Regions from separate parts of the Homo sapiens genome. Here region 2 is linked to region 1. Evidence: fine-mapped expression QTL. A gene starts in region 1. The other region holds a variant in brackets. All regions are shown on one strand. Distances are between the middles of the regions.

What was found. PIP is the estimated chance that this variant, and not a neighbour inherited with it, causes the effect.
Region 2: its variant is fine-mapped to the expression of ZBTB20-AS1 in whole blood (TOPMed, PIP 0.96).

The regions. Positions count from the first base shown.
Region 1 is chr3:114,349,288-114,354,669 of GRCh38, forward strand. ZBTB20-AS1 (ZBTB20 antisense RNA 1) reads left to right here and starts at 2,524. Exons shown (of 9, transcript NR_038993.1): 1 at 2,524-2,669. ZBTB20 (zinc finger and BTB domain containing 20) reads right to left here. Exons shown (of 12, transcript NM_001348800.3): 11 at 987-2,591.
Region 2 is chr3:114,383,604-114,388,985 of GRCh38, forward strand. All of the region lies in intron 8 of ZBTB20 (zinc finger and BTB domain containing 20), which reads right to left. ZBTB20-AS1 (ZBTB20 antisense RNA 1) reads left to right here. Exons shown (of 9, transcript NR_038993.1): 8 at 3,820-3,976; 9 at 4,793-5,375. Among named protein-coding and RNA genes, the nearest start is that of ZBTB20-AS1, 34 kb to the left of the region's middle. The variant G/A (reference allele first, on the strand shown) is at 3,154.

The DNA of each region.
Region 1 (5,382 bases):
CAATCGCTTATGTGCTCACTTATATGGAGGCACATCCATGGAATGCCCAATTCTATGGGAATTCCATATCTCTGTACCACTATGGAGCTATGAAAAAGGATTGGCTGAGAGATCAGAAGATCTTAGCTCTGGAATCATAGAATCCAGGGATGAAACATGATCTTGCCCATCTTGATGACTGAATCCTGTGTACAAAATCCCTAAAAATGTTCATCCATTCTCTCCTTGAATGCGTCTAATTACAGAAACTCACTCCATTTAAAGGCAGTCTATCTGATATTAGAGCAGATCTGATTGTTAACAAAATTTTTCTTTTATTTTGTGGAAAGGATCTCCTGATAGCATCCAATCATTGGTCTAGTTCCACCTTTTGGAGCCAAACTATACAAACTGAATGTCTCCTCCTCTTAACCATCTTAATAATAGCTACCACTTATAGAGCACTTATTATATGCTTGGAAGTACTCTAAAGACTTCACATGTATTAATTTATTCTCAAAACAGCACTATAAGGAAGGCGTATCACGATTATTCTCATTTTATACACAAGGAAACTGAAGTATAGACAAGTTAAGTAATTTTTCCAAGGCGACAAGGTTTAGTAGTAGCTAAGCCTGAATTTACACCCAGGCCATCTGGCTGGGTGTAAGAGCTCAAGCTCTTCCTGACTACAGTATGCTGCCTCTGAAACACAAATACTTGAATATGGCTTATATAATGACCTGAGTCTTCTCTTCTGCAGTCTGGACATCCCTAGGACATCCCTTCTCCATAAAGGGTTCCTGTGACGGTGTCTCTTGGTGGCAGGGTGCTTTGTTCTTATGATGGGAGGAACACAGTTGGGGTTTCTAGAAGAGGCTTGTGGTGGGGTCTGTTTAAAATCTGAAAGATGATCCCAAACCTTCCCTTCTACCTGCTCTCTTACCTTGCCTTCCCACAGCCCCCTCAGCCCCTGCTGCCAGGCCTCCAGGTGGGGTGACACTCACCTGTGTGTACGAACATGTGCTTGACGTAGTTCTGTTTGGCGGTGAAAGTCTTGTTGCAGAGAGTGCACTCATAAGGCTTTTTTTCGCCTTGCCCACTGGCTGTGCTGTGGCCTGCGGATGAGGCCAGGGGCTGTGGCGCTGGCAGCTGTGCAGTAAAGGTCGACAGACCGGGCTGGGACACTGTCACAAACTGGGTCTGCTGGCCTGCCAGGGGCTGTGGCAGGCTGAAGAGGAAAGGCTTGGGGCCACTGCCCGCGGGCTGGGTAGTGAAGAGGGCTGGCAGGTAGGTGTTGCCAGCTGTGCCAATGACCTGCGTGTTGCTGGTCAAGGTCAGAGGCATCCTCAGGTTGCTGGTGAGGGTTTCTGTCTGGCGTAAGTAGAGCTGGGTACTTGGCAATGGCTGCCCGATGGACGTGTTGACCGAAGGCTGTTGTAGGACGCTCTTGTCGGAGCTGTTGCTGACAGTGATAACAGTGCTGTCCATCTCCACTTCATTGCTTCTCTCCGGAGAGGAAGCACCTGTTTCTAGCTGGTTTGTCTGCGGACCACCCTCAGCGGGGGCTTCTGCAGCCTGCTCGGGTTGGGTGGGTTCAGCCTGGCTGTCCCGCGCCGCCCCAGGCCCAAACTGCTGCTCCACCGAGTCAGGCTCGGTGCCTATGGAGGAGCTGACGCCCGAGTCGAAGCTTTCACCTTTGGGCTCACTCTCGGTGCCCTCGGCCTGGTCTGTGTCTTCCGTGCACTCCTCGGATTCGTTGCGTTCCAGGATCTGCACCCTTTGCTGCCCGTAGTAGTCGTAATCGTCCTCCATCTCCTGCTTGATGTGGATGTTGCCCACTAGGGTCTGGATGCGCACAGGCCGGGGCTGCTTGCGGCAGTGCGTGGTCTCGGGGGTGGTGGACAGGTAGCGCTCCATCTGCTGCGAGCGCTCATGGATGCGTGTGATCCAGCTGGGGTCTTCCATGTGGTGGTCGCGGGGCAGGCCGAGCGCAGTCTCGTGGTGGCTGACCACTGCGCCGCTGTAAAAAGAGCGCTCGCCGCTGCCATTCTGCATGGAGCACGCGTAGAGTGCCGAGTAGATCCTGTCCACGCTGTGCTGTGGGTGGCTCTGCAGGTAGCCCGACTCCGTGTCGCTGCTCTGGCCTGACGTGCCTGACTCGGGAGTGCCCCGCGGCGTGTCCTGGCCCGAGTCCTGGATCCCCGGGAACACATCGCCCACGTTCTGTGACACGATGCGCGTGCACTCGTCGATGACTGTTTTGATCTGCAGGATGCTGGCGGCCGTGAGGATCTGCAGAGCTTCCGACTGCGAGACCCGTAGCACGCCGCTGTACATGAAGTCAATGAGCTTTTGCACTGACTGCACTGACACCACCGACGGGATCTCGATGTCGCTGTAGCCAAGCAGCAGTTTGTCCTGGAAGAAGGGGCTGCCGGCTGCCAGCACGCAGCGGTGTGCGCGCAGCATGCTCCCGTGGATGCGCACCGTTACGTCACAGAAGTGGCCACGGTTGCGCTGCTCGTTGAGGGTCTCGAGCACGGAATTGCTGAAGTTGTGAAGGTTGATGCTGTGAATGCGCTCGGTCATCCCCTTGCAACTGATGTCACCTGCAGCATGTCAACGCAGACACAAAACAGGGCATGGGTCAGATCTAGCTGGTTGCATTCCTAACACCTAGGTTTCAGGTGAGTAATGCTCATGGCTCCTAGAAGCACTGCCCTTACATACGCAAGTGGGGAGATGGACAGGCTGCGGCATACAAGCTGTAGGTACGATGACCTGAGGGAAAAGGACCTTGAATTTTGCTCCAATTCCGGCCTTTAGTGCCGCAGCCATTTTGGGTATCCATATTAACTCCCCAGAGCTTCGGCTGAGGTAGAGTGGCCTAATAACCAGATGATTTGTTTGCCTGCTATTCCTACAGCTTCAGCAAAGAACTGAAAGGCAAATGGAAGACTTGTTCTTATGGAACACTAAACCTCCACTTTATTTTTATTTATGTATTTATTTACTTTGCCTTCACTTTAGACAGGCCTAAGCCCAGATTCTTTGGGAAAGTTTACATTTCCCCCAACTTATCAAAGTCCCTTATTTTATTCATACACAGTGACCATATTCATAGTTAACAAATAAACCCCCTTCCTATTAAGTCATATGGCATATTATCAAAACCCACACCATGTATGCAAAAATTATTGGAAAATTCAACCCAGACTAAGATATCTACCAAACAGTCATGATCATGCTTTCCGGATGATGGATGGGCTACAGAAAGCAATCTGCTAGCTAAAGGGGCACTCCATGGCTGCTTTCTGTATCTACTCATTCTTCTTGTCATCTCTGACAACCTGTTTGAGCACTTTCTAGGGTGGTTGCATGTGATATGGAAGGTTTTCTGAATTTTCTGAGGCTTAATGAAGGAGGAATGTTAAAAAGGTCAGAGATGGCAGTTCTGACCCAGGAGACTACAGTACATTGGTGATCATATTTATTATGCAAACAGGGCACTTTCAAGAGTGAAAGAGAGCATTGTTAATAATTAGGCCAGGATAGCAGGAGTAAGCCAGAAGTGGGATATATGATCTCCTTGGGTAATAGGGTGCTTTATGTACTTGCCACAGGGAAGTATTAAACAGCTCCCAGGAGGAAGGCAACAGCTATGTGGAGGCTGCGGATAGCCTGACCCAGCGCCACCCTATAACGTAGGCTGTTATGGCAAGGGATACTATTGATAAGATTTGGATTCAGAATGAGAAAGAAAACAGGTGGCTACAGCAGTAGATCTTAGGGCTTTTCTATTTTTCTAGCTCATCTCTCAGATGGCTCTAGAGAATCCCCCTCCAAATAATTCTTCAATCAGATTCCCCATTCTTGCCTTTACAACTGAACAATCAGCTTGGGAAAGTGAAATAAGTGGGCTTTCAAAACCAAATGGCCCAAGCACTGATTGTTGGCCTGGACCCAAATCTCTCTGTCTTGTGAGAAGCCACCTGAGAGGTAACAGCCTGCAGATAGGAAGAAGGCCTACCTCCTCAAACTCTTTCCGCTCTACCTTGCGATAGAAGACTTGTTCAGGAAACTCTGAGTTCAATGAGCGTTTCTACCTTGCTTCACTCAATCACCCTCACATGGTATGAGCTTAACTTAATAAATGTTCAATAATACAATTTGCACTAATTTGTATAAGAGCATTCTTTCTCGTTCTGACTCTATCAGGTCTGTTATGTGCCTAAAATATTGTATTAGGCTACAGATTCCATCGTTTTTACTTATATAAGACAAGTTCTCTTTGCCAGATTAAAGAATTAAGGTAAATCCCCTGTAACCATGTGAACACAAAATATGGCCCCAAAAGAAGGCACAAATAACCCAGGAAGGGCTGTTCAGGAGCTCAATCAGCAGCAGACCAAATTTCAAGTTCTTGCTGAGTTCGCCATACATACATACCATGATAGTAATCACAAGATAACATTTTTTAGGGGTTACAGTTCTAACTGCTTTCTGTATATGATTTCATTTAATCTTACAGCAACCATGGGAAGTAGATGATATTATTCCCATTTTACAGATGAGGAAACTGAGGCCAGAGAAACTAAGAAACTTGCTCAAGTACACACAGGCAATTGCTGGTAGACTGGCATTTAAACCCAGGCAGTCTGGCTCTAGAGTTCACCCTCTTAACTGCTTCATTATATTGCATAGTTTGCCCTTTACTGAGGTCTGGCCCTTAGGGATCCACGGCTCTGTTGTAAAGCTGTGTGAAAGGCTTTGTCCACTACTACCTCCAGCTACTTCTATACCTATCCGTGATTTAGTGTGGCTTTTATGTTTTTAGGCTGTGATGCTTTGACATAGCCTCAGTTGTGTAACTTAAAGGACTTATTTTTTTAGATGTCACAGTGCAAGAAGTAAGACAACTAACTGGCACTATGGTTTAGGATTTTCTATATACAATTTTACTATAACCAAGGTCTCTTTCATTTAAGTAAAACAATAAGCAGTAAAACTGGTTGTGTCTGTGATCATCTCTGTGTAGGATGGATTTATTACAACATTTTTTTCTACACAAGTGAAAACACTCTTTAAACATACATTTGCTCATAACATTAGTTACAACAATAACACTAGAGATGTCATATATGACAGTTTTCTTTCAGATAATTCTGGGAAGTAGCCCTATCACAATTATCACAATAATTAGTATCCATGTAGTGTTTGACTGTGTATACAACTTTTTTACATGTAACATCTCATTTATTCCTTACAACAATCCTATGTGTGTTCTGAACAGGTTTTTTTTTGTTTTGTTTTGTTTGTTTTTTTTTTTTTTGACAGAGTCTTGCTCTGTTGCCCAGGCTGGAGTGCAGTGGCACAATCTCAGCTCACTGCAACCTTCAA
Region 2 (5,382 bases), 34 kb after region 1:
CACTTTACTTACCCTTATACCACTGGGCTGTTTCCCAACTGTCCAGATAATAGAGAACTGCTCACCATCCTCAGAAGCAATTCATGTCCTGTCTCACCCTCTCTAATGGTTCTTCGGACTCCTTTTTCCGGAGCTGAGAAACCCTAAAACATAGCACCCGTTTACGTCTAGACATGCACAGGTGCTGTGAATTGACCCCATTTTTGCAGTTCATAGTTTATTAAGGAGGAAAGAATAAGCCCTGTCATAATTAGTTGAAAATACATTTTGAGGCTGTATAAAAAGAATTATAAACATGGCACATCTGAGGGCAAGTCTTTTCAAGCCTCTGTGGCGATGCACTATTCCCTGGAGCCTTTAGAGGGCAGCAGCACACTGGCTGACTCCAGCGGATTTCAGAGAGGCGAACTCCCGACCAGAACCTTCCTCCTGGTCACCATGCCAAAGGTTGATTTGCCAGGCTCTGGCCTCTCAGTCTCTTTCTTTTCAGTTCTCATTCTCTCTCTCTCTCTCTCTCTCTCTCTCATTCTCTCTCTCTCTCTCTCATTTTCTCTCTCTCTCTCTCTCCAACCCCTTCCTCCTCTCTCTCTGTTAAAATTATACACTCTGATGAAGTCGCCCCTCAACCGGAAAATGAAAGCTCCAATGAAAAAGTTAGACAAGCCAACAACAACAAAGAAAGAAACCAGGGAAAAAGGAAAAGGGGGCTGGTGACAGGGAAGGACTTAAGAATAAGAAAAGGGCAGATGTTTCGCAAATATATGCAAAGCAAAACTGGGTGTACCCTGAACACTTCCACAGAGAAACAGACCAATCATTGTGCACTTCCTCCCGCCACACTGGTGGAGCTCTGCATTCAAAAAAAGAAAAAAAAAAAAGGCAAAAAAGCGTGGCCGCAGGCACCCGCCTTTCAACGGTCAGTTCTGACATTCTGACTGAACATCTCTCAATTGTCCAAGGAGAACAAAAACATTTTCATCTCCTCACTGCAAACATTTCTGTTATGAGAAAAGGCTGCTTCAAGAATTGGGAGTGTGTTTTAAGGAGACTGGCGGCCGAGTTAGCCAGCAGAGCCTTCTGGTTTTTAACTCTCATTGTGCTGGCCCCAGCAAGAAGTTTTAGGCTGAAACATAGCAGTGAGTAAGGCTGTGGAGGATGTTGGCTCTTTCCTAACTAGACCATATTGTATGTGGAAAGAAATATGCATTAAAACATATTGATGATATGGTAGGTATTAAGCATGTTAAATGCATGGAAATTAACCAGATCGGCGGCATTTGATGTATATATTTCACACTCTTTTGCACATATTGCACACATACAGTGATGGCAATGCTTTCTGCAACATATGGAAAAATAAATATTTTATCTGTGTGAGCTCTTAGCAGTCTCCAGGGTGTTGAGAGTGCTCTCTTCTTTCACCCTATCCCAATTTTCTCTCTTCACTGGGCTCCCACCCTCTCTTGCACGTTAATGTGCCTTTTACTTATCAGCTTGGTCTTTTCCTATCTGGTAAGTAATGTGCCTGTTACTTATCAGATAGGAAAAAATTAGTTGGAACCTCCTATTGGCTCATGATAATTTAGACCAGTGATGCCTCCCCCAATCTTACTGGAGTCGTAACAATTTCCCTACTCTTTTCCCCAACAATACATTAAATAGGCTTAGTATCTGGGCAGGAGAGAAAGGGTAGGTGGTAACAAACCACCCCAATAAGGGTGGTAGCGGAACTGCGCTCCACTACCTATTAGCTGTATGTCCTGGGTAGATTACTCCGCATCTCTGAGCCTCATTTTCCTCATCTGTAAAATGGGAATAATAATACCTACCGCTTAGGGTTATTGTGAGGAACAAATGAGATAAGCCATGTAAAGTGATTTGCCTTGTGCTGGCACATGGTAAGAGCTCAATAATGGTAGTTCCTCTCATAGGGATTGTTAGTTCTGTGATATTCATCATGTTAGCTTTAAGAAGACATTTCCGGGCAAGGGGTGGTAGCTCATGCCTGTAATCCCAGTACTTTGGGAAGTCGAGGCGGGCGGATCACGAGGTCAAGTGATCGAGACAATCCTGGCCAACATGGTGAAATCCTGTCTCTACCAAAAATTCAAAAATTAGCTGGGCATGGTGGTGCATGCCTGTAGTCCCAGCTACTCAGGAGGCTGAGGCAGGAGAATTGCTTGAACCCGGGAGTGCAGAGGTTGCAGTGAGCCGAGATGGCGCCACTGCACTGCAGCCTGGAGCAAGAAAAAAACAAAAGAAAAAGAAGACATTTCCCTTCATTTCAGTAATCTGTTTAGATATCTAGATTTTGGGTAGGGGCAAATGGATTGTTATTGTAGCAAAGGCAGAAACAATGTTAGGACCAGCAATCTCTTCCTCAACATTTGATCTTGCTGTATACTTCCTGACATCTCCTTTCTGCTCACATGTTTGTCATTGCTGTGGCTACACTACACCATGAGCTCCTTGAAGCTGAGGGTTGAGCAAGCTGCACTTAGCCTATAGAAGCCCATCAAGCCTGGACACTATGGTCTATTCATTGAGACCAACCTATGGGACTCTGGCTTATCGTGTTTTCTTGCAATTTATCATTTCTCTACCTGGTCTGATGTCCTCACATCAATTTAAGATATTTTAGTGATTAAACACATTTTATTTTCTCAATCTTATTTTTTTTAACCTTGGCAGGGCTGATTTATAATTTTTTTTTCAGTATAATTTCCTCTTAACTGTATCAGTCAGGATCCTGGCAAAAATAGATGGCACATGCAAAGTTTTTAGCTAAAGAGGATTTAATGAAAAAACTGTATTTGGAGCTGCAGATGAGGTTAAGGGACCTCAAGAGAGATAGCACCAGGTACTAGCAATAGTAGAGACTGCCAGGTACTAGCAGTAGTGGAAAGCTTTAAACCATTTAAACTGAAGGGGCAAGTAAAATGGTGATGAATTCTGAGTCCAGTCAGAATTGGAGTTGGGAAGGAGGGCTGAACTAACACATTTCCTGACCTCTCTCTTCCCCCACTTTCACATCTCCTGCTGATGTCTCCTTTTGGCCAAATTCAAAGGGAAGCCCAAGGACAAGAGAGCCTGGGTAATGTAGTCCAGAAGGCCAGTCTTCTGGGTCACACATCAGGGCAAAAGAATGGTTCT[G/A]GGGTTTTTTTGGGGGTAGAATGGGGTGGCAAGACTAATCAACATATGTGTTCTTCTCTCTTATACTTTCAATTATACTTTCTGGAAGGAAAGACAGAACAAAATAAAATAGGTTCTGTCTTAGCTTCCATGTACCTATTATGTCGAATTGCCATTCACAGAGCAAGAAAAGAGAATGCTGCTCAGCCGAGCAGGGATTTTTGTTTGTTTTGCTTGCTGCCATATTCCTAGTTCCTAGAACAGTGTCTGGCACATAGTAAATGGTCAGCAAATTTTAAATGACTGAGTAAATATACTCACCTCTGCCGTGACAGACTTTATATATATATCATCTCATTGACTTATCACAATAATCTGGTTAAGTAGGCAGGGCCACTGAGCATTATTGTGCAGGTGGTATGGGGGGGGTGGGTAGGTATTAAAATTTAATATGTGCCTCCCCAACCCACTTCCAAGCCTTGTGACTAGGCCCGAAGCATTGTCAACCCACCAGAAGAGATATACTTCTGTAAATGATTCACATTTTAATTTTTTATCCTCTTTATTGATTTTTGCACCTAGCAAGTTTCTGTTTTATTATTATTATTTCTCTTTTATGCATTGGAAAGCCAAGTTTCTGAATAGCAAAGACTGCAAAGATTATAACCCAGTCTGTCCATTCTCTAGGGCCCATGAGAAGTAAAAGCAGGCACTGGCATTCTGCACAGATGAAATACTTCCTACGACAGGAATACATGCTCACTTGTGGACTTCTCTGTAATCTGTAGGCAACATCAGCTCCTGATTTCTAGGTCTGGATCTGGGTTCTCTGTAGCACAGGAAGGTAAGAGTGATAAGAACTCTTTTCCCTCTTAAAGGATATAGAAACTTTTAAACCCATCTGCATCATAGTAAGGCTGTGTTATCTGTATCAGCATAGTTACTCTGTGATGAAGAAAAACTCAGAAAACTATCCAGATGTGGGAATTTCTCGGGTATTCCTTGCACTTGAACTTAAGGATGAATGAAGGTATATACAAGTAAGTTCCTTGTGTGGGTGTGGACTGAAGAAACTATGTTTGATCTTCTGTCATGTCTTTAGTCCCCAGTAACTCAGTCCTATTAGTACTATAGAACACATTCCCCTCCGGGAAAGGCAGGCCTGTCTATCACCTACACAGCAGCCCCCATCAACTATGATTCAGTTGACTGGAAGCATTAAAGGTAAAAAAGCAACACAAAATAAAGCAAAACTCTGGCTTCATCCCTTTAGGTTTGATTTATACCAGAATAGCTAAAGACATAGAAATATGAATGTAAATATCCTACCTGAAGCCTAAGAGGGATGTTAGTCTCCCAGGTTTAGCGTTTTCCAGTAACATAGAAGTCTGTAAAACACCATCCCATTACCTGCCTCATAACATATAGGAAAACTTGTGAATATAACAACTAGTTATTGTTTTAAAATGTGTAATTAAGTTACTTTGCATGCAGAACTTCTAAATAATTCAAATGACTGGCTTTTCTATTGGAAAATAGCATATATTCATCTGTTATTTCAGCAATGATTAATGAATACTTGATATCAAACTTTCATCAGTATTTTCCCATAGGTATCATATCCCCTACCCCAAATTATTTCTGTACTTTTCCTTGCAAGGTCTCTACTTCTCCTACATAAATGCCTTGCATGGCGGGAACTAAATCAACTACACAGACCCATACATCCAGAGAGCAGAGGTGAGCTGGATACAAGTGGCTTAGAGATGTGGTGGAAGGAGGCCAGAGCTCCAAGGGAAGGGCAGCAAGGAGACAACAGCATGGGTTGCAGCTCAGACAACAGGTAAATAAAACCAAGCAAAGCTGCTGGTCACAGATTTGACCAGGGTGGCAAGAAATGACAAGCTACCATGAGATTCAACAGTGGCACGGAAGGATGATGAGAAGCAAACAGATTAGGAGAAGCTGCCACCACCGTACATAGAGGCACAGATGACCAAGCAGAACAGCACCAGTCCCTGCAAGGTGTGCTCAGATACAGCTCAGCACAGCCATCTGGCCAGGAGGGAATGATAATGCACATGGTGTGCACTGCAGCCGGGAAGTTGAGAACCGCTGTGGGCACCTCAGGACTGAGTCTGGTTACCCTGCTGATCCAAGAAATGAAGCCATCTAAAATTTTGCCTGCTTTCACAATTTTCTGTGTGTGTGTGTGTGTATTAAACAAAGTGAACTAAGAAGCCTTTTATT